Linked DNA regions of Homo sapiens. The protein of the gene in region 1 purifies or fractionates together with the protein of each later gene. This does not show direct contact. Each region holds a gene or a part of one and is shown in the gene's direction. Other genes may lie near its edges.

Evidence for each region.
Region 2: the proteins of TSFM (region 1) and ARMC1 fractionate together in Homo sapiens (co-fractionation; one large-scale study listed by BioGRID). This does not show direct contact.
Region 3: the proteins of TSFM (region 1) and CLIC4 fractionate together in Homo sapiens (co-fractionation; one large-scale study listed by BioGRID). This does not show direct contact.
Region 4: the proteins of TSFM (region 1) and MRRF fractionate together in Homo sapiens (co-fractionation; one large-scale study listed by BioGRID). This does not show direct contact.
Region 5: the proteins of TSFM (region 1) and PNPT1 fractionate together in Homo sapiens (co-fractionation; one large-scale study listed by BioGRID). This does not show direct contact.
Region 6: the proteins of TSFM (region 1) and MINPP1 fractionate together in Homo sapiens (co-fractionation; one large-scale study listed by BioGRID). This does not show direct contact.
Region 7: the proteins of TSFM (region 1) and CARS2 fractionate together in Homo sapiens (co-fractionation; one large-scale study listed by BioGRID). This does not show direct contact.

What each region holds. Positions count from the first base shown.
Region 1 is NC_000012.12:57,795,437-57,798,087, forward strand, and holds the end of TSFM (elongation factor Ts, mitochondrial isoform 2 precursor), read left to right. Parts: intron 1-740; coding exon 741-1,147; 3' UTR 1,148-2,151; downstream 2,152-2,651. Other genes in the region: AVIL (advillin), read right to left, coding at 2,446-2,559. UniProt on the Homo sapiens protein: Associates with the EF-Tu.GDP complex and induces the exchange of GDP to GTP. It remains bound to the aminoacyl-tRNA.EF-Tu.GTP complex up to the GTP hydrolysis stage on the ribosome.
Region 2 is NC_000008.11:65,624,178-65,627,677, reverse strand, and holds part of ARMC1 (armadillo repeat-containing protein 1), read left to right. Parts: intron 1-244; 5' UTR 245-279; coding exon 280-462; intron 463-3,500.
Region 3 is NC_000001.11:24,800,947-24,804,446, forward strand, and holds part of CLIC4 (chloride intracellular channel protein 4), read left to right. Parts: intron 1-3,500. UniProt on the Homo sapiens protein: In the soluble state, catalyzes glutaredoxin-like thiol disulfide exchange reactions with reduced glutathione as electron donor. Can insert into membranes and form voltage-dependent multi-ion conductive channels.
Region 4 is NC_000009.12:122,309,882-122,313,381, forward strand, and holds part of MRRF (ribosome-recycling factor, mitochondrial isoform 1 precursor), read left to right. Parts: intron 1-3,345; coding exon 3,346-3,500. UniProt on the Homo sapiens protein: Responsible for the disassembly of ribosomes from messenger RNA at the termination of mitochondrial protein biosynthesis. Acts in collaboration with GFM2. Promotes mitochondrial ribosome recycling by dissolution of intersubunit contacts.
Region 5 is NC_000002.12:55,645,345-55,648,844, reverse strand, and holds part of PNPT1 (polyribonucleotide nucleotidyltransferase 1, mitochondrial precursor), read left to right. Parts: intron 1-1,391; coding exon 1,392-1,498; exon of another isoform or gene 1,499-1,572; intron 1,573-2,358; coding exon 2,359-2,430; intron 2,431-2,522; coding exon 2,523-2,586; intron 2,587-3,412; coding exon 3,413-3,496; intron 3,497-3,500. UniProt on the Homo sapiens protein: RNA-binding protein implicated in numerous RNA metabolic processes. Catalyzes the phosphorolysis of single-stranded polyribonucleotides processively in the 3'-to-5' direction. Mitochondrial intermembrane factor with RNA-processing exoribonulease activity.
Region 6 is NC_000010.11:87,507,893-87,511,392, forward strand, and holds part of MINPP1 (multiple inositol polyphosphate phosphatase 1 isoform 1 precursor), read left to right. Parts: exon of another isoform or gene 1-312; coding exon of another isoform or gene 313-346; intron 347-443; coding exon 444-641; intron 642-3,500. UniProt on the Homo sapiens protein: Multiple inositol polyphosphate phosphatase that hydrolyzes 1D-myo-inositol 1,3,4,5,6-pentakisphosphate (InsP5[2OH]) and 1D-myo-inositol hexakisphosphate (InsP6) to a range of less phosphorylated inositol phosphates.
Region 7 is NC_000013.11:110,664,617-110,668,116, reverse strand, and holds part of CARS2 (probable cysteine--tRNA ligase, mitochondrial), read left to right. Parts: intron 1-643; coding exon 644-777; intron 778-1,188; coding exon of another isoform or gene 1,189-1,346; exon of another isoform or gene 1,347-2,589; intron 2,590-3,500. UniProt on the Homo sapiens protein: Mitochondrial cysteine-specific aminoacyl-tRNA synthetase that catalyzes the ATP-dependent ligation of cysteine to tRNA(Cys). In addition to its role as an aminoacyl-tRNA synthetase, has also cysteine persulfide synthase activity.

The sequences.
Region 1 (2,651 bases):
GAAAGGTAGGTGGTGTCATCTCTATTTTAAAGGTGAGGAAACAAAGGCTTGATAAATTTAGTAAATGAGATTATGTCATTGAGTCACTTGCCCGAGGTCATATAGTCAGTAAATAGGCAGAACTGAGACCTGAGTCACACATACTTGTGTCACCACAACCTATACAACCTATGTTTGTTGTTTTTTTTGTTTTTTTTGTTTTTGGAGAGAGTCTTGTTCCCAGGATGGACTGCAATGGTACGATCTCGGCTCACTGCAACCTCCGCTTCCTGGGTTCAAGTGATTCTCCTGCCTCAGCCTCCTGATTAGTTGGGATTACAGGTGCACACCACCACGCCCAGCTGATTTTTGTATTTTTAGTAGAAACAGGGTTTCATCCATGTTGGCCAGGCTGGTCTTGAATTCCTGACCTCAGGTGATCTACCCGCTTCAGCCTCCCAAAGTGCTGGGATTACAGACGTGAGCCACTACACCCGGCCTGTTTTTAAGTACCAGAGTGCCTGGCACATAGTTGGTGCTTCATAAAGGTATTCTTCACTTCCCCCACTCCCGCTCTCCTGCCCCATACCCCTTTTCCTCTTTCTACAAAAACTGAAAATGGTATCTCTTCATCTTACTGCATATCCTATGTAAATGCAAAGGGACTGTCTTCCAAACTGGGCCTCTTCTGTGCATATTTTGGTACCATCACAGACATCACAATTTGTTGGTGTGTTGGTTTTTTGTTTTTGCTTTAATAGGAAAACTGGGAGAAAACATGATTCTTAAACGAGCTGCATGGGTGAAGGTGCCATCTGGGTTCTACGTTGGCTCTTATGTCCACGGAGCAATGCAGAGTCCCTCACTTCACAAGCTGGTGCTGGGGAAGTATGGGGCCCTGGTCATCTGTGAGACGTCTGAACAGAAAACAAACCTTGAAGACGTTGGCCGCCGCCTTGGGCAGCATGTGGTGGGCATGGCCCCCCTCTCTGTTGGCTCCCTGGACGATGAGCCTGGGGGAGAGGCAGAGACTAAGATGCTGTCCCAGCCGTATTTGCTGGATCCCTCCATTACCTTGGGGCAGTATGTGCAGCCTCAGGGGGTGTCGGTAGTAGACTTTGTGCGGTTTGAATGTGGAGAAGGTGAAGAGGCAGCAGAAACTGAATAGGTTCCAGAGACTTTTGGCCCAGGAGGAATATTTACTTTTAGCTCTGGACATCATTACAAAAAGGAATATTTCCCAAACCTCTTCAGACCGAGAATGCATGGGTAAAATTATTAAATAGTTGTATAATAAAAATAATTTTTTCCTTGTTTGCGTAATACTGGATTTAGCTTTTCTGTGCCTTTCAAAAACAACAGGTGGGCCTTATTGACGTGATAGTGTCGTGGAGAACAGGCATCAACAATACTGCTGCTCCCTTCAACATAGATTTATTATGGTATTTCTGAAATTTCTAACTTATATGTTCTGTCTTACACCTTTTATGACATAGAACTCTTTTGTTCTGTTTTTGCTTTGCGACACTGTGAACCGTGCTTCTGCCTCGGAACCTCCCTAGTTATATTACTTGTGCCACATGGATTTCTTTAGGATTATTGATTCAAACCTAGAGTTGTCTGGAAAATGTGGGTTCTCTTCTTTGTGATTGTCTGTAGTATGCTTTGAAGGTGCTCTGCAGTGGTAGACACACTGGTTCTGGCCTCATTTAATGAAATTAATAACACATGCCCCTATTTCTCTTTTGGATGATGTGTGGGTGGGTGGGTACTGAGGTTTCCTGGCCAGCTGTAAGGCAGATTTTGACATTCTTGTGCCAGAAACAGAAATTAGAGTAGTCCAGTTACCCAGAGAGCTCACTTAACATTGCCTCTTTACTTCCCCAGTACTGAAACATTTCTTCAAGTATAACATAAAATTACCGTAACAAGCAGACCCAGAATACTGAAAATAACTCCATTTGTTCATTATAGGTATCTTTATTTGAAAAGTGAAAAATGCTTTGACACATTACAGATCTGGGTATTTGGATTTTGCCTATGGAGTGCATATATGATTTCAATGATTTACAGGCTAAATAGATTTTAGAAATAATCATCTTAAAATTGAAAACAAAGGTAGGTCCTGGTATAATATTAAACATAAAGTTATTAAACATTTTAAGCATTGTTTTTTGGTTCTCTTTCTTTTGATTTCTCCAGATTTATGCAGTTTTAGTGCTTTCTGCTGAGGCTTTAGCTAGAGGGCCACAAAACCCAAAAACTATATGGTTAACATTTTAGGTATATAACAAGCAAGGAATGCAAGGATGAGAAAAAATGGAGAACATGCCGTGATTTGCAGACTCTATTATATCTAAATTAAGTAGCTGAATGTCAGGCAGAAATTGGTGGATAAATTATTTCCTGATATTGGCACTATCTGCTCTTTTCTGTGGCCTTGCAATAGGTATAGGCCTTCTTGCTTTAGAAAAGCCCCTTTTCTTTCTTCATTTGGAGCTGTTTCCAGCCAGGCAGAGCTGCAAATTGCCCTCTTGTGATGCCAAACACAGACACAAAGTCCTGTTCAGAGAGGTAATTCTAAGAGAGAAAACAAAGTTTCTAGTTAGAAGGAAGACATGACATCATTGCCAACAGAAGTTGAGGAAGTTGGAGCAAGAGGGAGTTCTAGG
Region 2 (3,500 bases), on another chromosome or scaffold:
AAACATAATTTATTGGAATATTGAGGACAACATATGTTCTTTAAACATTGTGCACACAAATTTTTTCAGTCGTCTTACGTTCATTTTACTTTTCTCAAACTGTAGAGTTGCCGATTTCTAAGTTTTTATGTGATTTAGTTTTAGTTACCTGATTCTTTCTAAAGGTGTTGTAATCCTGGTTATTTCACAAGTGCTATAATATACCTCAGCAGCCTAGAACTAATTCTGCAAACCTTTTCTACAGAATTTAAGATTTTATTCATGTGCATGGCATAGAAGATGAATTCTTCCACTTCCACCATGAGTGAAGAGCCTGACGCTCTATCGGTAGTTAACCAGTTACGGGATCTAGCAGCAGATCCGTTAAACAGAAGAGCCATCGTCCAGGATCAGGGATGTCTGCCTGGCCTTATTTTATTTATGGACCATCCCAACCCTCCAGTCGTCCACTCCGCTTTGCTTGTAAGTTGCCTTTAGTAATTTCAATCTCTGTTCTATTTTTGCAGTTAAGGTGAGAATTTGGAAAAAGTGCTAGATGACAAGGTAAAAAAACGGAAAGAGAGCAATTAGTTGTTTGTATTTATGTAGGTACAAACATATGTATGTGTGGTCTGTGGTCTGTTTACACCAGTGGTAACATGCTACATTGTTTTTATTCTTTATTTTTTTTTTTTTGAGTCATCTAGGCCTGGAGTACACTGTGGCAGGATCTTAGTTCACTGCAATCTCCACCTCCTGGGCTTAAACCATCCCCCCGACCTCAGCCTCCCAAGTAGCTGGGATGATAGGCACACACCACCATGCCAGCCAAATTTTTGATATTTTGTAGAGATAGGGTTTCGCCATGTTGGCCAGGCTCAAACTCCTGAGCTCAAGTGATCCTTCCACTTTGGCCTCCCAAAGTGTTGGAATTACAGCTGTGAGTCACCATGGCCAGCCTTGTTTTTATTCTTTTATACAAATTGTTGCATACTCCATGCATGGAATGTCCTACCACTTCCTTTTCATTTAACAATCTTGAGGATTGGATCATATCATACACAGAGACACTCAAAGAGGCACTTATTTTGTTTTTATTTTATAACAGCTTTTTAAGATGTAAGCACACAGCATCATATAATTCACTCATTTAAAGTATACAATTAAGTGATTTTAGTATATTCACAGAGTTGTGTGTCACCATCACCACAACTTTTTATTTTTATTTATTATAAATAAATTTTTTTTTTTTTTTTTAGTAGAGATAGGATGTAGCTATGTTAACTAGGCTGGTCTCAAACTCCTGGCCTCAAGTGATTCTTCTACCTCGAGCTCTCAAAGTGCTTAGATTACAGATGTGAGCCACTGTGCCCGGCCCACCACAACTTTTTATCTATTGCTTCCCAGACCCCAACACTCCCTGTCCCTAAGCAACTACTAATCTACTTTTTGTATGTCTATATTTGCCTATTCTGGCAAAAATGCCTATATATTTTGCATATAAATAGGGCCAGACGTGGTGGCTCACTCCTGTAATCCTAGCACTTTGGGAGGCCGAGGTGGGTGGATCACCTGAGGTCAGGAGTTTGACACCAGCTTGGCCAACGTAGTGAAACCCTGTCTGTACTAAAAATACAAAACAATTAGCCGGGCGTGGTGGTGGGTGCCTGAAATCCCAGCTACTCAGGAGGCTGAGGCAGGAGAATCCCTTGAACCCAGGAGGCAGAGGTTGCAGTGAGCCAAGATTGTGCCATTGCACTCGAGCCTGGGCAACAAGAGTGAAACTCCGTCTCAAAAAAAAAAAAAAAAAAGTTGTTAAAAAAATTAATGTTTTGGAAATTTTATCTATTGCCCTTTACTTAAGGACTCGTGATGATTCCCCATTTAGTCTAATTTCACAAGTTTGTACAGAAGGCATATAGACTTTTCCTTTTGGAAAAAAATTTCTATTTTGCCTTTACAGAATGAAGTTTAGCAGTCAAAAAAGACATTGGTGTAAGAGAACAGTAGTAACAAATGGGAAAAATGGCACAGTCCCCAGTCTGGGTTCAATTTCAATAAGAAATGCAAGAAGGATGAGAAGAAAGAGGGGGTTGATCTATAGATAGGGACTTGGGGCTAAAGGAAGTAAGTCTTTTTTATTTTTAAATAGACTAGAATATGTCTAAGTTCAGAGGGCAAGGGCTACTAGAATGGGAGAGGTTTGAGGGGAAGGCTCTCATAATTGCAGAAAATAGGAAAGATTTGCTAACTGAGGAGAATGATAAAGTTGTTCAGCAGTGTTGAGGGCTGATTAGTTTGGTAATACTGAATCGATATGATTCAGGCCTGTTGTAGGCTCACAGAGCCAAGTACTTGGATTTGTCTAGAGTTGTTACTTGGCCAGGTTAAGTTGGGCAGAATGATTGTGCAAGGGAGTTTAGGATCTTGGCAGGATTGGTTGAAATGATATACAGTAGATACTAGGCTGAATAGGAAGGGAAGTATAAAGTCATGGAGGGACAGAGCTAAGGAGAGGGATCAGTGAGTGAAAGTTCCCAAGAGGCTGAAGAAAAGATTTTTTTGTTGTTGTTTTTGAGACAGAGTTTTTGCTCTTGCCACCCAGGCTGGAGAGCAATGGCACAATCTTGGCTCACTGCAACCTCCGCCTCCTGGGTTCAAGCGATTCTCCTGCCTCAGCCTTCTGAGTAGCTAGAATTACAGGCCCGCACCATCACATGTGGCTAATTTTTGTATTTTTAGTAGAGACGGTTTTTCACCATGTTGGCCAGGCTAGTCTCGAACTCATGACCTCAGGTGATCTGCCTGTCTTGGCCTCTCAAAGTGCTGAAATTACAGGTGTGAGCCACCATGCCTGGCCATTGGGTGTGTTGTTTTTATGATTTCCTTTTTTCGTCACTGTTAGCTTATTAGTATACACTTTTGTTTTTATTTTAATTTATTTAGTGGTTGCTGTAGGTTTTACAATATGCATCTTTAACTTCTTACAGCCTACCTTTAAATGAATCATACCCTTAACATGTAGTGTAAGAATCACACAAGAGTATATTTCCATTTCTTTCTCCCATCTTTTGTGCTATTTTTGTCATACATTTTACTTCTACATATGTTTAAAAACCTACAGTGTATATATTTTTGCCTTAAACAGTCAATTATCTTTTAAAGAGATTAAAAATTTAAAAATGTCTTTTTTTTTTTTTGAGATGGAGTCTTGCTCTGTCACCTAGGCTGGAGTGCAGTGGCGCAATCTCAGCTCACTGCAACCTCTGCCTCCCGGGTTCAAATGATTCTTCTGCCTCAGCCTCCCTAGCAGCTGAGATTACAGGTGCATGTCAGCATGCCTGGCTAATTTTTGTATTTTTAGTAGAGACAGGGTTTCGCCATGTTGGCCAGGCTGGTCTTGAACTCCTGAGTTCAGGTGATCTGCCCCCCTCAGCTTCCCAAGGTACTGAGATTATAGGCGTGAGCCACCATGCCTAGCAAAAAAAGGTCTTTTATATTTACCTTCATTTTTACATTTC
Region 3 (3,500 bases), on another chromosome or scaffold:
GCCTAGGAAAACCAGAGACCTTTGTTCACTTGTTTATCTGCTGACCTTCCCTCCACTATTGTCCCATGACCCTGCCAAATCCCCCTCTGTGAGAAACACCCAAGAATTATCAATAAAAAAATAAATTAAAAAAAAAAAAAAGAATAGTTGTATTAATGGGAAAAACTAGGGTTTGGCAGTGGATTCCTCTTGATGCAAGTGTCACAACATGATTTGCTATTATACTGATTTTTAAAACTATTAGTCTGTTCTCACATTGCTATAAAGAACTACCTGAGACTGGGTAATTCATAAAGAAAAGAGGTTTAATTGACTGGCAGTTCTGCAGGTTGTACAGGAAACTTGTCTGGGGAGGCCTCAGGAGACTTACAAGTATGATAGAAGTCAAAGGGGAAGCAGACATGTCTTTCATGGCCGGAGAAGGAAGAAGAGAGAAGGGGGAGGTGTTACATATTTTTAAACAACCAGATCTTGTGAGAACTCACTCTCTGTCACAGGAACAGCAAGGGAAGTCTGCCCTTGTGATCCAGTCACCTCCCACAAGGCCCCTCTTCCACCATTGAAAATTACAATTTGATATGAGATTTGGGCAAGGACAGAAATTTAAACCATATTATATATCAAGTCATGAACAGTGTCCAGGAAAAGATATTGACAGCCTATCACTTGATAAAGTGGCAGAATTAATCTATGTTATCCCTCTGAGCATCACATGCTGATAGTTACCTGAGAGCTATAATTCCATTCCAAGTTCTAGGTTAGTGTACTCAGATTTCTGTCATTCCCTTAAAATACATTTTTACTTACTGCTAGTGCATATATTTGAAATTTTACAGACTTTAAAATTTATTGAACATAAGCCATAAAGTCATCAAGGAACCCCTTTAGTTATGTATATAAATGTAGAAATAAGCCTTTGGGAATAGTGAGTTAAAACTACAAGCTCTTGGGAAGACATTACCTTATTCATGTTGGGCAGAGATGTAAGAATGAAATAAGTCATGTAGTTACCCTTCTATTACTGTTTTTTTTTTATACATGTGTACACAAAGCAAGTTTCCCAATATAACTCCTAAAAATAGAGTGTGCCACCAGGCACACACCCTTACTGTGTCCTAAAATACATGAATTTCTCCTATTCCATTTTTGGCTTGGAGCAAGTGAGTTGACTGCCATTCTTTGAAAAAGCTGTCATTGAATAGTTTAATACAGTGCTTTAATTGTGATACATACCAGTAATAGTGCCATAAACATGGGAATCTGGGTCAGAAAAGGAAGTAAACCCATTATAGCTATTTCAGAGTTGTCTGTTTCTTTTCATTTGCAGATTTTTTAAAGGCATTATTCCTATAGGTTGATTGATATTTGCAGATTTGTATATATATGTTAAAGTGTGTATGTGGAAATATGTGTAAGTGTATATGTTAAGTGTTTATATATATAAAAAGTGGCGCATGGGAGGTAGGCATTCAGGGCCTTATAATTAGAAAATATCAAAGAAGATATATGTTTATTACCTAGGGCTTTATGTAAAATCAATGGTAGAGAGCACTTAAAATTGAAGCTTATATTTTTTGGTCTTTAACAATCATAGGTCTCCAGTAAATATAAAAAATGCTTCTTAGGGCAACTAAAACTAAGCAAGTAGTACGTGATAATGAGTCTGTACCATCCCTACCCCCTAGTCATCAACTTCCCCTTCAGAGAGATAATTTATTTTAGGTTTGGTCTTTATTCTTCCAAATCTTTTCCTTTTTTCTTTTTCTTTTTTTTTTTTTTTTGAGACACGGTCTGCCTCTGTCACCGAGGCTGGAGTGCAGTGGCACGATCACAGCTTACTCTGTAGCCTTGAGCTCCTGGGCTCAAGTAATCCTCCAGCCTCAGCCTCCCAAGTAGCTAGGACTACAGGCATTTACTGCCATACCTGGCTAATTTTTTATTTTTAAGAGACAGGGTCTCCCTGTGTTGCCCAGGCTGGTCTTGAACTCCTGGGCTCAAGCAGTCCTCTGGCCTTGGTCTCCCAAAGTGCTGGGATTACAGACTTTAGCCACTGTGCCTGGCCTCGTCCAAATCTTTTCTATGAGTTTACACACTTGCAGTCTTGAACAAAATTTTAAAGAGAAAGTACCTCAAGAAAGTGAGCATTGGTTCAAAAAACAAAAACAAACAACCCACCAGTATATATGAAAGTTATCACAGAGGAATAAAACATCCCTGTAGTACTTTTCATAATATATTCTTAATCTTAAAACATTAAATGTGACTCTTTTTAGAAATCTTGGGGGAGAAAATATGCCTACAGTGCTTATTTTCCTGCTTTTCCTGGTAATTGCCTAATATCTTGGTGAGAAGTACTGACTCCAGAACAAACCAGTGGAGAACAATAGAACTCCTCTGAGAGTTACTTAGCAGCTCACTCTATGATTTGAAAAAAATGATTGTTACATGACATTTCATCCATAAGAACAAGCCCATTTCTAGTTCTGGCACTGTATGACATGTTCTCTTTGAATCTCAGTTGGCATTAATGACTATGCTGGTAGTATTCATGTGTCCCTTGTGAGGCTGTGAACAATCTCCCATTACTTGCCTGCCAGAGCAGCCTTCGTGCTTTGGTGGGAGTCATTTCCAAATCTAATTTTCTGTTCATATTGCAATTTAAAGAACGTTTAGATAGAAAAAAAAGGGCCCAGGCTTCACAAAGAATTTCAATTTACATCAACGATTTGAACAAAAGCTTCAGATAATATAAGTGAAAATACTAAAATTGGGGCAGAGTTAAAGATGTTCTGGCATGTCATCAGTTGGGAAACAACCATGGCATAGTATAGAAAATTTCAGGAGTGAGACCTAGCTGTGTATGGAGAGAGCTCTATCACTGATTTCACTGGGACCTGGGGCGAGCTGCCTCATCTTCCTTGGAGTTAGTTACCTTATATTTAAAATCAGGAGAAAAGGGAAAAAAACTTCACTTTTGTAATAGTTTAAAATGTTACAATGGAACTATGAAACTGATAGTTCTGCATATCTTAAAAGGCAGTTAGAAACTCAGAAAAAAATCTGATTCCCAAATAGACTCTTCAGATAGTTTTATCTTCATGATCATGTCTCTGTGGTTCCACCTTTCTGAAAACAGTCTTCAGTAACTTAAGAAATCATTTCAACTTCCATGATCTTCAGTAGCAGCAGCATGAATGACACATGCCAAGAGACTAAATGGAATGAGATAAGCCTGTCTTTCAGAGACATCATCTATTTCCTGCTGCTGTCCAGACAGGAAAGTCAGACTCCATTTTTCCCCTTTGTAAAGTTGACTTGAGCTACATGAAGCACTTGTTAGAACAGTCCAATTCAAGATAATTGTGCTTTATGACTGCATTCAGAATCACATGTGTACCCACTGTGTGTGTGGGGGGTGTGTGTATGTGTGTGCATGTGTGTGGGTGGGTGGGTGGAGGGGGTGTGTGTGGGTAGGTGGGTGGTGGGGGTGTGTGTGTATG
Region 4 (3,500 bases), on another chromosome or scaffold:
ACCAGTGAGATCTCAAAAAGTCATCTTGCCATAGCATAGATCTTTGCTCTGTCATTCCTCTGTTGATTAAAAACTTTCATTATTTGAAGATGCTTCAGGGCTTCCAAAAATGTAACCAACAACAGCAGCAGAGACAGTTTACATTTCCTGAGTGTTTATTCTCTATCAGGCCTTGTACTGGATGCTTCCCATGTATTACCTCATCTAAATCTCACAATAACTCTGAAAGGGAGGTTCTGTTTCATTTGTTTGTTTTTAATTTCTGTTTCCAAATGAGAAGAGCAAGGCTCAGACGGTTTAAATAACTTGCATAGGGTCACTCAGCTTGTAAGTGGCAGGCCCAGAAGTGGGGTCGGATCTGAGTTTTGTAGCCTGGGATAGAGCCCACCGCTCCTCCTCATCAACTGAAGTAGTCTCTTTTTATCTGTTTTGCAAATGGGGCCTCTGCCTCAGTTTTCTTTGGAGCCAGGGGTTTGTGGCTAAAGAAGAATTTGAAAACTCCAGGCCTGTAGAGTATATTTGACTGGGATGTACCCTTTTCAGCTTCATGCTGTCCCTCCACTACATCTCCCACTGTGCTTCCCAAAATGCACTTTGCATTCTTCTGCAGCTAACAAGTTACTGTGCATCCATAAGGCGGTTTCCAAATCTCAAGATAGAAGTGTTGTGTTTTCTGTATGCTCCTTCCGCAGTAGATACTAGCAACAGTCATCCTCTTTCTACGTAGTGGCTGACAAGTTTGTCTCCACCACTAGTCTGAGCCTCTGGAAAAGGTGGGCCAGGTCTGCCTCTTCTGGAGCTCCTTGGTCTGGCCCAAGAACTGGCACAGAGCGTAGGAGGCTCAGTCAGTGCTTGATGGGTGAATGCACATCAACTTAAAGTGGGTACTCAGAACTAACCAGCTGAGTTCAGAAGCCTGGAATACAAACTCTAGTGCATACTCACAGAAACCCAGGAATGCAAGGTGGAGATGATCAGATGTATTAATCACATTTGGAAAAGAATGAAAATATTTCCATAATAAAATATGTTTATTTTCTAAAACAGATATGCCCTCATTGTTTCATGAGGAAGTAATTAAACATGTTTGATTAAAACATTCATAAACACTATCATTTATTCAAGGCTACTATATATGCTGCTCTCTTTATTGGTACTTTATCTGTTGTGTCTGCTTCTCCTAATCCTCCTGTAAGGTGTCTTTTTAAATCTTCATTTTAGAGATAAGGAAACTGAGGCTCACAGAGATTAAGTAACTTGCCCAAGGATAGTCAGCTTCTGAGCAATAGATACAGGTATGAACCTAGTCTGTCTGACTTCAAAACCAGTGCCTTGCCATCACCCTAACTGCTTCTGATCTTGTATTTTAGATACCTTTCAGCTCAGTACCCTGAACCAGCACACACATGCCCTTCTCCCCCTCAGCCCTCCCTGTGTCCAGCATGGTTTGTCTTCCTCCCTCCCTTTCTCCCTTCTCACTGCACTCCACTCTCCATTTCCTTGTAGTATCTTTTTGATTATTGCCTCTTTGCATCCTGAAATGGAAATATTTTTGACAATGTCAGTGATTGGACACGATTACATGTGGAAACTGGTGTTAATAGTGTGGTAATGTCACATTTGCATTAATAAATACAAAGTAATACATTTTATTAAGGCCAAATTACCTATATTATGATTTTGTTTTCTTTCTGTAGCCTTTAATTCTTAAGATTTTTTTGAGTCTCATTTTATATTTTTTAATGTATGTTTTTTCCTCCATTTAAAATATAACATTGTAGTGAAAAGAAAAGTTGATCAGATAATTTTTTTTCTTTGATTAAGCATTTTCTAAACAGTGAGATACCTATTTGAAATTATGTGAAATGCAATATTGAAATACTTCAGTATGTTCTTTTTGGAGAAGTTTATGAGGTTTCTTAAAGACTTAGATTCATTTATTTTCTGCCCCTCTTAGTATTTCAGCAGGATTAAGTTCTTGAATCAGTGGATCAAGTTTTAATTTTCCTGTTCCTTCCTTATACTGACATATGCTTTGGCAGAACAAAAAAGAGACCTAAACATGTCAGCATGATTTTTGTTCAATGAATTAAAAACCATAAAAGTAACAAGATCTGATCCAAATCCCTAAACTCCTGACATGGTGGTTTTGTGCTTTTTAGTCCCAAGCTTCATATTACTGACTTTGAAGAGCTTTCTGCCTGGAAGCAGAAGTAATGGCAGCAGTGCATAATTTACTTGAAATAGATTACAAGAGTAAAAAGAATACAGGCCAGAAAGATCGGGGTTTGAATCCCAGTTCTCTCACTCATGCTCATGGGCAAGTCACTTAACATCTGTGAGCCTGTTTCCTCATTTGAAGAGTTGTGAGGATTCAATGAAGTAACACACTTAAAGTACTCATGTGGCATAGAACGGTTTAATAATAGTAGTAATTAGACTCATTGTTGTTTTGAGAATACCTTCAAATAGCTGAATCCAAAAGGATTTACGTAAATACAACTGTTCACTTCAGAGCTTATTCTTTCTCAAAATTCTTTAATTTTTTTTCTCAGCAGAGAAAATGTAAGGTAGATGTTACTAAATCTTTAACAGCTGCTCATCACTATTCCACACTGAACATGTACCCAGAACTTAGGATTGTCCTTCCTTGAGCAAGAACCGTGTTGATTTGAGAGTAAGGAAGCATAAGCATGTCCATTTCAGGACCCAGGGGGCAGAGGAATGCTGTCATACTAAGACCATTGGCTTTTGTGACAGGCCAGCTTGGGTTTGACTGGGTCTGACTTTGTATAAGGTACCAAATTTCTTTGGGCCTCATTTTCTTCATCTGTAAAACGTGGTTCGTGACCTTGCAAGACTGTCTGTGATATGGCTTCCCAGCCTCTTTTCTTGTCACTCCTTTCTTTGTTATCAGTGCTCCAGCCAATTCCTTAAATGAAGCATGGGCTCTTGATGGTTTTGTCCTTTTCAGTCCCAAGCTTCATATTACTGACTGTGAAGAGCTTTCTGCCTGGAAGCAGAAGTAATGGCAGCAGTGCATGATTTACTTGAAATAGATTAGAAGAGTAGCAGAAAGAATACAGGCCAGAAATATTGGGATTTGAATCCCAGTTCTCTCACTGGGAAGTTTGGTACCTTCTACAAAGTCAAACCCAGTTTGCCCATGTTTGGGCAACTTAAAGCCTTTATACATGCGTTTTCCTCCTCCTGGAAATTCCAGGAGTTCAGCCCACAGAGAGGAAAGTTACAAACTGCTGAACTGGTTGACAGAGTGATGTTAAATTCTTGGCCAGCAGTTAATGTATAGAATGATTTTGTTGAATGTCTTTTGTCTTTTATCAGAGTAACCAGAGAGCACAGAGAAATGCTGGTGAAACTGGCCAAACAGAACACCAACAAGGCCAAAGACTCTTTACGGAAGGTTCGCACCAACTCAATGAACAAGCTGAAGAAATCCAAGGATACAGTCTCAGAGGACACCATTAGGCTAATAGAGA
Region 5 (3,500 bases), on another chromosome or scaffold:
CCAGAAACCATGATTACGTAAACTAAAAATCCTACACAGAAAACTAATGACCATAAGCAAAGTCAACGAACTAGGAAATAAAATATTTTATTTATATGTTATTAAACATAATATTTTATCTTTACATTTTAATAAAGCTCTGTCCATATTGAAAGAAAATCAGTAATAAAAAGACTGCCAACCAAGTAGAAAAGTGTTGAAGGCCATGAACAGGGAGTTCTCAAAATAAGACATATAAATAGGTTTATGAACATGAAATAGTTTTCAACCTCAGTCATAAAAAACAAGTCAGATTTAAAATAACCATTTTTTACACTTTAAATTGAGAAAAATCAAAAGATTTGACAAGAATTAATAAGAATATAGAGTAGCATATACCTTCTTACACCACTGGTAAAAGTTTAAAATGCTATGTCTTTAGAAGGCAGTTTGACAGTCTAACAAACGTAAATGCACATACCTTTTGACTCAGCAATCGCACTTCTGTGTGTGACTTGTAAAACATACAGGGAGTACTAAAACTATTCAAAGGAATAAAGTAGAGCTTTGTGTGGTGGTATGTGTCAATATCCAAGACATGTTATTAAGTGAAAAAGGCAAGGTGCAGAACAGTAAATGCATACAGTCTGCCGCCACGAGTAAAGAAAACAAAAGATTATATTTACATTTATACTTGTGCACAGAAATTTTCTAGGAGGATACACTAATGTTAGCTGCCATGGGGAGGTAAACTGAGGAGTTCAGGCTGGAAGAATTTACCAAATAGATGCTTACTTTCCAACAAAAAGAAAATAAGACACCTGAAGCAAAAAAGCAAACCAACGGATAATTTAAAAGTTATAAAGTTTGCTATTGTTAGAGAAGTTTTTGCTGGATATAGTACTTGTTTACATTGTTTTAGGGAACTTTATTATATGTTCAAAAACAAACGAAGTAGTCAGATGACCTCTTAAGACTTCCAACTCAGCTTCGGTGATTGTCAATTTAGGCAACAATATCCACTTACATTAAAAGTAAATGTCTGCTGGGCGCGGTGGCTCACGCTTGTAATCCCAGCGCTTTGGGAGGCTGAGGCTGGCAGATCACCTGAGGTCAGGAGTTCAAGACCAACAGGGCCAACATGGTTGAAACCCCATCTCCACTAAAAATACAAGCAAATTAGCTAGGCGTGTTGGCGGGTGCCTATAATCCCAGCTATAGGGGAGGCTGAGGTGGGAGGATTGCTTGAACCCAGGAAGCAGAGGCTACAGTGAGCCAAGATCATGCCACTGCACTCCAGTCTGGGCAACAGACCGAGACTCCCTCTCAAAAAAAAAAAAAAATTGATAGATAAATATTTGTTTTAGGCTCATGTACACATTACCCACAGTTGTTCTTTTTCCCAATTATAGGGGTTCCAATTTCATCTGCTGTTGCAGGCGTAGCAATAGGATTGGTCACCAAAACCGATCCTGAGAAGGGTGAAATAGAAGATTATCGTTTGCTGACAGATATTTTGGCAAGTATATTCTCGGTTTCAAATATTTAATAATGAAGACTAAAAATAAATAAATAAAAATTAAAAGATAAAAACAAATAATGGTGAAGACTATATGTACTTTGCACCTAGCGTATGCTTAGAAGAATGCTAGTATTTGAAGAACAGGTACTTGTTCTTCCCTTCCTCCTCTGCATGTTCACCTTGTATCTTATAGGATATGAATTTAAAATAGATATTATATTAATAGTAATAGGCCAGGCACAGTGACTCATGCCTGTAATCCCAGCACTTTGGGAAGTCAGGAGTTCCAGACCAGTCTGGCTAATGTGGCAAAACTCCATCTCTACTAAAAATACAAAAATTAGCCTGGGCATGGTGGCACACACCTGTAATCCCATCTACTTGGCAGGCTGAGGCAGAATTGCTTGAACCCGGGAGGCAGAGGTTGCAGTGAGCCAAGATCGTGCCACTGCACTCCATCCTGGGCAACAGAGCAAGACTGTGTCTCAAAATAAGTAAAATAAAATAAAATAAAATGATTACTTTAAAAAAATAGTAATACTTACCCTTAAGTATTGCAGTAATACTTACACAGTGTAAGTATTCATAATGACTCACTTTAGGATGAGCATAAATTCATTCTCAGGCATTTATGAGGGAAAGGAATGATCTAAAAATAAAATGATGTTTCTGGTGAAAATAATTGTAGCTTAAAAAGTCACAAATTGGAAGTGGTAGTTAATGTAGAAAACATTGCTTTGTGTTTGGACTTAGGATATGGTTTACTTCTAAAGCTGTTTTTTGAAATGTTTCTACAGTGAATATGTTGACTTTTGTTTTTGTTTAAAACTATGTCATAACTTTTTAAATTCCTGAAGGGAATTGAAGATTACAATGGTGACATGGACTTCAAAATAGCTGGCACTAATAAAGGAATAACTGCATTACAGGTATTTTTAAAACCCATTTTGTTTCATTTTTGTAACATTTAAATAATGCCATGAGTCAATATTTATATAATTGTTTGACTTTTCCATATTAGGCTGATATTAAATTACCTGGAATACCAATAAAAATTGTGATGGAGGCTATTCAACAAGCTTCAGGTGAGCTAGTGTGCTTGATTCTCCCTTCATTCTTTTCCACTTTGCTAATGGGAACTATAGTTCTCATTAGGCTTATTATAAAATATTGCTTTAAAAAGTGGAATTTCATATAACTTAGATCAAGAAGTACTGGCCAGGTGTGGTGGCTCATGTCTGTAATCCCAGCACTTTGAGAGGCCGAGGCAGGCAGATCACTTCAGGTCAGGAGTTCGAGACCAGCCTGGCCAACATGGTGAAACCCTGTCTCTACTAAAAGTACAAAAATTAGCCGGGCATGGTGGTGCATACCTGTAATCCCAGCTACTCAGGAGGCTGAGACAAGAGAATCGCTTGAGCCCAGGAGGCAGAGGTTACAGTGAGCCGAGATCATGCCATTGCGCGCCAGCCTGGGTGACAGAGGGAAAATGTCTCAAAAAAAAAGAAGTACTAAGTAGCCAGGCATGGCATGGTGGCTCATCCTAGCACTTTGGGAGGCCAAGGCAGGAAGATTGCTTGAGCCCCAGGAGTTCAAGACCAGCCTGGGCAACGTAGTGAGATCCCATATCTATTTTAAAAAAAGAAGAAGCACAACTAAGTTTTTGGGACACATGAATACACGCCAAAGTGGGTTACCAGTGAAATTTCAATTTTTACAAATTAAACAACTCTATTTAAGATGGGATTTTTGGAGAAGAGAATATGAGTGAATTTTCAAGGTAATAGGGATGTGGAAAGCTTCAATTATTAAGCTACAGGGTTTAGATTGTATACCGTGAAAACTAAGAGTACAGTATTTCAGATCATATTTGTTTTATGTAGTTATAATTTTTGTGTTTTTCTCTTCTAGTGGCAAAAAAGGAGATATTACAGATCATGAACAAAACTATTTCAAAACCTCGAGCATCTAGAAAAGAAAATGGACCTGTTGTAGGTAA
Region 6 (3,500 bases), on another chromosome or scaffold:
AGTTGGGAAGGTTAATTGAGAAAATAAAATACTCTGTTTAGACTTTGGCTTAGAGTGAAAAAATAGATTCCATATGTTGAATTCTCTCTCACCTTGTAAGTAGAAACTTTGCTGATTTTTAGTTTGCTTTCTAAAGTTTTCCGTGCCTGACAGAAACAGTACTTATTAATGTATGATGCAATTTCATTGCGTAGCATCTCTACAACACATTTAATCTTCAATCTCTATTTCTTTAGCCTTTTCTAGCTATTCTCATGCGTTACAGCCATTATAAATGGGGAATAATTTTACCCCAAGAGTTTCCTGACCAATATGTGCTTATTTCAGCTGTGCGGATTAGTAAGATGTTAGTGTTCCTTTTTCACACTTAACATTTTCAATAATTTGAAACTGTCATTTATGTCAGTGATTTACAAATACATATAAATTTTTTTCTCTTTCAGATATGGAGTTTGGACCTCCAACAGTTAATGATAAACTAATGAGATTTTTTGATCACTGTGAGAAGTTTTTAACTGAAGTAGAAAAAAATGCTACAGCTCTTTATCACGTGGAAGCCTTCAAAACTGGACCAGAAATGCAGAACATTTTAAAAAAAGTTGCAGCTACTTTGCAAGTGCCAGTAAATGATTTAAATGCAGGTAATATGTCTGTTGTCTTTTATTTGAACTTAACAGTTTAAATAATTTTGAACTGTGAAAATGAAAACATAAGGAAACAGTCTTTTTTAAAGACCCATAATTGATCTACATTAAGAAAATAATATGTTCTGGGTCAAAAAAATTGTATACCTTGTGCTTACTATTTACCATTTTTAGATTCATATTCTTCTTTGAGTGTTATTTAAATTACTGTACAAGATTCTAGTTATATTCTGGAGTTTTTTTGAGGGCAGAGTAATATAAAGCCTCAACTGTAGGCATTATTTTTAAAACAAATTATCTTTTCTGAATTTCCCCCTGATAAAGTGATACAAATGGAAAAATCATATAAATTCTTTAGCTTTTGAAGCAGTTCAAAAGTACCTGTTAATGTGTAAGAGGGGTAAGTTTTAGAAAGTGAAAAGCAAAGTACTATGATGTTTTTTGAGTTATATGTAGCAATGCTGAGAAGATGAGCAGTCATGTCTATCATAAGTTATTGCAGTGGATGGGCTGACTATGCAACTTACCATCCAAACTGGTGGGACACTTTCGAAAGTGAAAGGGAACACTATTAATAATTTTGCCAGGAAAGCAGGTGGGAAACCATGGCACATGGTCACCTAGCAATGGGAGATTAAGAAAATAAGATTTTTTTCTGTTTTCTAGGAATTTATGTTCCATAGGGTAGATGTTGACAAAGATACATGCAAAGATTGTAGATTACATTATACTCTGAATTAATTTCCAAAAGACTGGAAGTAGATGTTGGGGAAAAAATAGATTAGAATTTATCAGTCACAGGGCCTGGATGCTTTATAAGGATCAAAAAGAAGATGCCTAGACTAGCATTTGAAATTGAATTTTTTCTCTCTCTCCAAACTGGCAGTACATTGGCATCGCCTGTGGAGCTTTAAAAATTATTTACTTTATTGGGAAATAATTCAAACACGAAGATAACAAAAAAGGCTAATGTGGTGAACATCCCTATACCCACAACTTGGTTTTACTAAATTTTAACTTTGTGCTTCAGTTACTTGCCTTAAATAAATTGAGGTCTACTGGTCCCTTTCCTGGATCCCATTCTTCTTCCTTTCTCACCAGTGGTAATTGTTGTCATGAATTGAGCATTTATATTATCCCATGCCAGTTTTATACATAAATGGGATATTGTTTTGCAGATTTTAAAACTTTTAAGAGTGGTATCAAAGTTTATACCAGTCCAAAATTCTATTTTTATGCAACTTTTTGTTTTTGATGTAATGTTTGCAATTCTAGTCCTACATTTTAAATGTATGTATTTCATTCTACATCTATACCAATATCTAGCCATTATTCTGTTAGTAGGCAGTTAGGTTGTTGAAAAAGATTTTTTAAAACTATGTTTAGTCTCTGAATGGGCAAGAATTATGTATTTTACTGATGAAGTAACTGACAGCAACTTCTTTTTGGAAGCAGTATTAAGTATAGTGGTTAAAATAATGGATTCTGGAATTGGACTATTTGCATTTGAATCTTGACTCTACTATCCTATTGAATAACTATGATTTTTGACAAGTTTATTAATGTCTTTATGCCACAGTTTCCTTTTCTGTAAAATGAACATGGGAATTATTCTTGTCTTATAGGATTATTGCAAAGATTATATAAGATTAATTCATACAAAGCATTTAGTACCTGGCGCAGTAATTGCGCAATAAATACTTTTGCTATTTAAATACCCTTTTGTTTACATAGGGGGTGATGCTATATGTATTTTCAGTAACTTACTATTTTTACTTAACAATATATTTGTCTCTAGACAAATATAGAACTGTCTCATTCTTTTAAATCCTGTGTTATTTCATGGGACATATGAATGACTCGATTTGTAAGTCAATGCTAGTTAAATTGTTTAACCCATCATCGAATTTTACTGCTGTAAGAGGCTGTTGCTAATGCAGTCCAAATTCTTTTTATAGAAACCATTTTCCTACTGAAGTTTTTCTTAGTTTTTAACTCTTTCAGGTAATGCTACAGTGAACATTCTTGTAGTCTGTTTTTTACACTTGAGAGTTTATTTGTAAGATAAAATAGGTGAGGCCGAGTGCCGTGGCATAACCTATAATCCCAGCACTTTGGGAGGCCAAGGTGGGTGGATCACTGGAGCCCAGGAGTTCAAGACCAGCCTTGGCAACATGGTGAAACCCTGCCTCTATCAAAGACACAAAAGTTAGCCAGTCTTATAACTTGGTCTCCAAATAAATAAATAGATTTCTAAAAATGTTTTTTAAAGATAAATAGGTGAAATTGCTGGGTTAACACACATGAATATTTTACATCTTGACATATATTTTTAAATTGTTCTCTGAAGGTGTAGTAAAAATTTATATCCACAGTATATGAGAATGTTCATTTTCCCATATCTTCCAACAGTAGATATTATTAGTCATTTTAATTTTCGCCAATTTGATTAATGAAAAATAGTATCTAGCTTTAATTTGCAGTTCTTTGATTACTTCTGAAAGTGAACATATTTTCATGTTTAGTAGCCATTTGCATTTCTTCTAAAAATTACCCCTTCATAATTTTGTTCATTTTCTATTGGGTTATTTTTGTTTTCTTATGAATCACAAATACCTTTTATGTATTATGGATATATTAATTATATCTTTTAATTCTGCCTGACAAAGGATTCGCCCTTTGCTTGTTGTATGTTGCTAATATTTTAATTTCTTGCTTATCTCTTAGGTTTGTTGATGGTGCCTTTGATTGCACAGAAGTTTACATCTTTTACATAGCCATATCTGTCTCTTCATTATGGCTTCTGAGTGTTGTATTTTGTCTAGGAATCCTCCCACCGCAAGATTATTATGTTTT
Region 7 (3,500 bases), on another chromosome or scaffold:
GCACCTTAGAAATTTCTCTATCTATCATTTTAAGAAAATCCACCGGCCTGCTGCGTCGCCATGCTTCTGCAGCTGGTCCAGGGACAGAGCTTCGAGTGGGCTGGCCCAGCCTCATTTCCCCCATCAACCCCATTAATTTTTTTGTATGGGTTTGCAGAAACGCGGTTTTTATGGAGGCATGGCACAGCACTGTAGGAGAAATGGCAACCTGTGTTGCTTTGAACTCTCTTACCTTGTTATTCGTAGGTGACTGTTAGTTACACTTGCAAAAGCCAAATGAAACACTGTCATGATTTTATAGTTCCATCTCTTGTTAAAATTGGAAAACCACTAAACTCTACCTATTGAAAGTAAGTAAAGGTAATTTTTTGAGTTGAAAAAGAAAGAAAGAAAAAGAGAAAAAAAGAACCTGGAGCAAAAAGAATTAAGTGCCTTTACTAGGATGAAAAGTCATGAATTACGGGCTTGTGATGACAGGATTTCAGTTTTCATTTGAATCAGTTAAATTATCATGCAAATTGATGCAAAACTGAGATCCATTTATTCATTGAATTAAAAAGGCTGGAAGGAATAAATAGACGAGGTTAGAAGAAAATATGTTGCTTGATTGAATGAATTCACTACTTTGCACTGTGTCTTGCAGTATGGTATTTGGAAGTCAACTGGATATCCATTCAGGTGGGATAGATTTAGCTTTTCCACATCATGAAAACGAAATTGCACAGTGCGAAGTCTTTCATCAGTGCGAGCAGTGGGGAAATTATTTTCTGCATTCTGGTAAGTAATAACTTCAGATTAATTTGTTCTGTTTCAATTCTAGCAGTTCTGTCTTTGTCGGCGGAACAGCTACATTTGGAAATACATAGTAGATCAGCTAATAGGTCAAGAAATGGATTTGCCTCTTAAATTATTTTTGAGTTTCAATCATTTGAACATGAGCTTCCTTGGATTGCAGCAATGATTATACCTTTTTGGAACTGACTAGAATATGGAAAATGTTTGGCAATGCTGTTCTATATAAGGTTTCTTTCAAGTAAAACTATTAAGAAGGAACTTGAAGTAGTACAATGTAACGATAATTATGAACATCCTTTCTGAAGCTATAATGTTGTCACTAGACATCTCTGCCATCTTCTAATAACATTGCCCTTTCTTCCACTGTTCAAACACCTAACTGATGAACCCCAGCTGTCTGCTCTCAGAAGTGGATGCAACACCATGAGTTAAGCAACACCTCGAACCCAGCAGTTTTGGAATTCACTTGGATGCACTGGAAGAGTCGTATTTCCAAGTTTACAGGGTCACGATTAACTAGTCTTATTACCTTTTGGGGATGGACAGCTAAGGTATTTGAGATGAAGAAAGATAAAGAGTGTTTGGTAGTGATAGGATTTGGAGATGCAAACTTCGACATCTAAAATACAGAAAATTAACAAATACTATCTTTTGAAGTCCTTGAATTGGGAAATTAGGATGTCACAGTAAAGTGACATTAAGTGCAGAAGTGCTCTGGTTTTCTGGTCCGCAGCAGAGTTCACTTGGGTTTCTTCGTGAAAGTACATGAGGCTGATTGCCCCGAAGTCACTTCCTGCAGCATGTCCTTCACCCCGGGCTTACCCTGTTGAGTCGGGGAACCCAGCAGGCGGCTCTGCCCCTACCATTACCTACTATGTCTGCCTCTCACAGTGCCCCAGTTTTTGTCTAAAAATGAAGCAGAAACAAAGCTGGCTGCGTGGCTGTTTGAGGACTTAGGAGCTGTTGTCCAGCACCCCATACCATTTCCCTGGGGAGGGCTCAGCACTAGCTGAAATCCACTTTATTCCGGTGTCGGTGGAGTTTCTAATCAGAACAAACGCCTGCCGCCCTCACTTCCGTTTCAGCTGGCGCTCACATGGGAAGGGGGTGCACGCTGCCCAGTGGTGGAATATTTAAGGCATCGCCCCTCAGGGAGCCGAGCACTGATTTCCACAGCCGGGGGCCTGCACTCCACTTTTGACCATGGGGAAGGAGGTCTCTCTTCCGTGGCCCAAGGACTTCTGAATTGTGTTCTTGGAGAGGAAGCGTGCTGGGAGCCCAGATAGTGGGGCTGAGACACTGTGTCTCAGGCACAGAGGTAGTCGTGTCCCTTGTCCCAGATGAAGAAAGATAAAGAGTGTTTGGTAGTGATAGATTTGGAGATGCAAACTTTGACATCTGAAATACAGGAAATTAACAAATACTAGTTTTTGAAACCCTTGAATTGGGAAATTAAGATGTCACAGTAAGGTGACATTAAATGCAGAAGTGCTCCGGTTTTCTGGTCCGCAGCAGGGTTCACTTGGGTTTCTTCATGAAAGTAAATAGATGAGGCTGATTGCCCCGAAGTCACTTCCTCGTTGACTTCGTTCAGGGCTCAGTTCAGCGCTCCCTGAACTGTCTGAGGAGCTGGAGTTGCTCCCTCCGCAGGCACGTTTCTGTCTGCAGGTTTATCCTGTTCAGTAGGTCAGGGTTTGTTACTGACAACCATGACCTGCTGTGAGCCCTTCTGCGAGTGTGGAGCTGGGGGGCAAGAAGGGCAGCCTTAGCTGTGCCAACGCTTCGTCCTGTCAGGTAATGAGGAGGGGCCGGGTCTAGAAACGGAGGTCGTGTTCACCTTCCGATGTGGGAATGGGAAAGCATTTGCTGTTGTTGTTGAAACAATTTCGCTCCGTCCCCCAGCCTGGGAGTGCAGTGGCACTATCTGAGCTCACCGCAACCTCTGCCTCCTGGGTTCAAGCAATTCTCCTGCCTCAGCTGTTCTAGTAGCTGCGACTACAGGTGCATACCACCATACCCAGCTAATTTTTGTATTTTTAGTAGAAGCAGGGTTTCACCATGTTGGCCAGGCTGGGCTCAAACCCCTGACCTCAAGTGATCTGCCACCTCTGCCTCCCAAAGTGCTGGGATTATAGGCGTGAGCCACTGCACGTGGTGGGAAAGTTTTGTGGCTATTTTTCAGTGATTTTTTACTACCTGTTAAGATACCAGCGATCTTTTTCATACTAGTTTGGCCCCAAACAAAACATCAGTGTCTCCTGACGCAGGAGAAGTGACACCTGTTCTCCTGTACCCAGTGGATGGAAGAGCTAAGTGGGCAGACACTATCCCAGCCTGTTAGGGCTGCTATAGCCAAACTGAAAGCGGGCGTGTTATGAACAACAGCAATGAATTCCTCACAGTTCTGCTGGCTGGGAGTCCTGCGTCAGCGCACTGGCAGACTCGGTGTCTCGGGAGGGCCTGCTTCCCATTTGTAGACGGCCGTCAGCTCTCGAGGGGCCTCTGTTATGAGAGCACTGATTCCATTCACACTGGCTCTGCCCCTGTGACCTCATCACCTCCCACAGGCCCTGCCTTCAGTTACCGTCACCTGAGGGCTGAGGATTTTGACAGGAATTTGGGAGGACATAAACATTCAGGCCTTAGCAAATGTGTTTTATTTTCCAACTATCATCAATTTTAAAAAATCAGAATCGTGCTTGGTG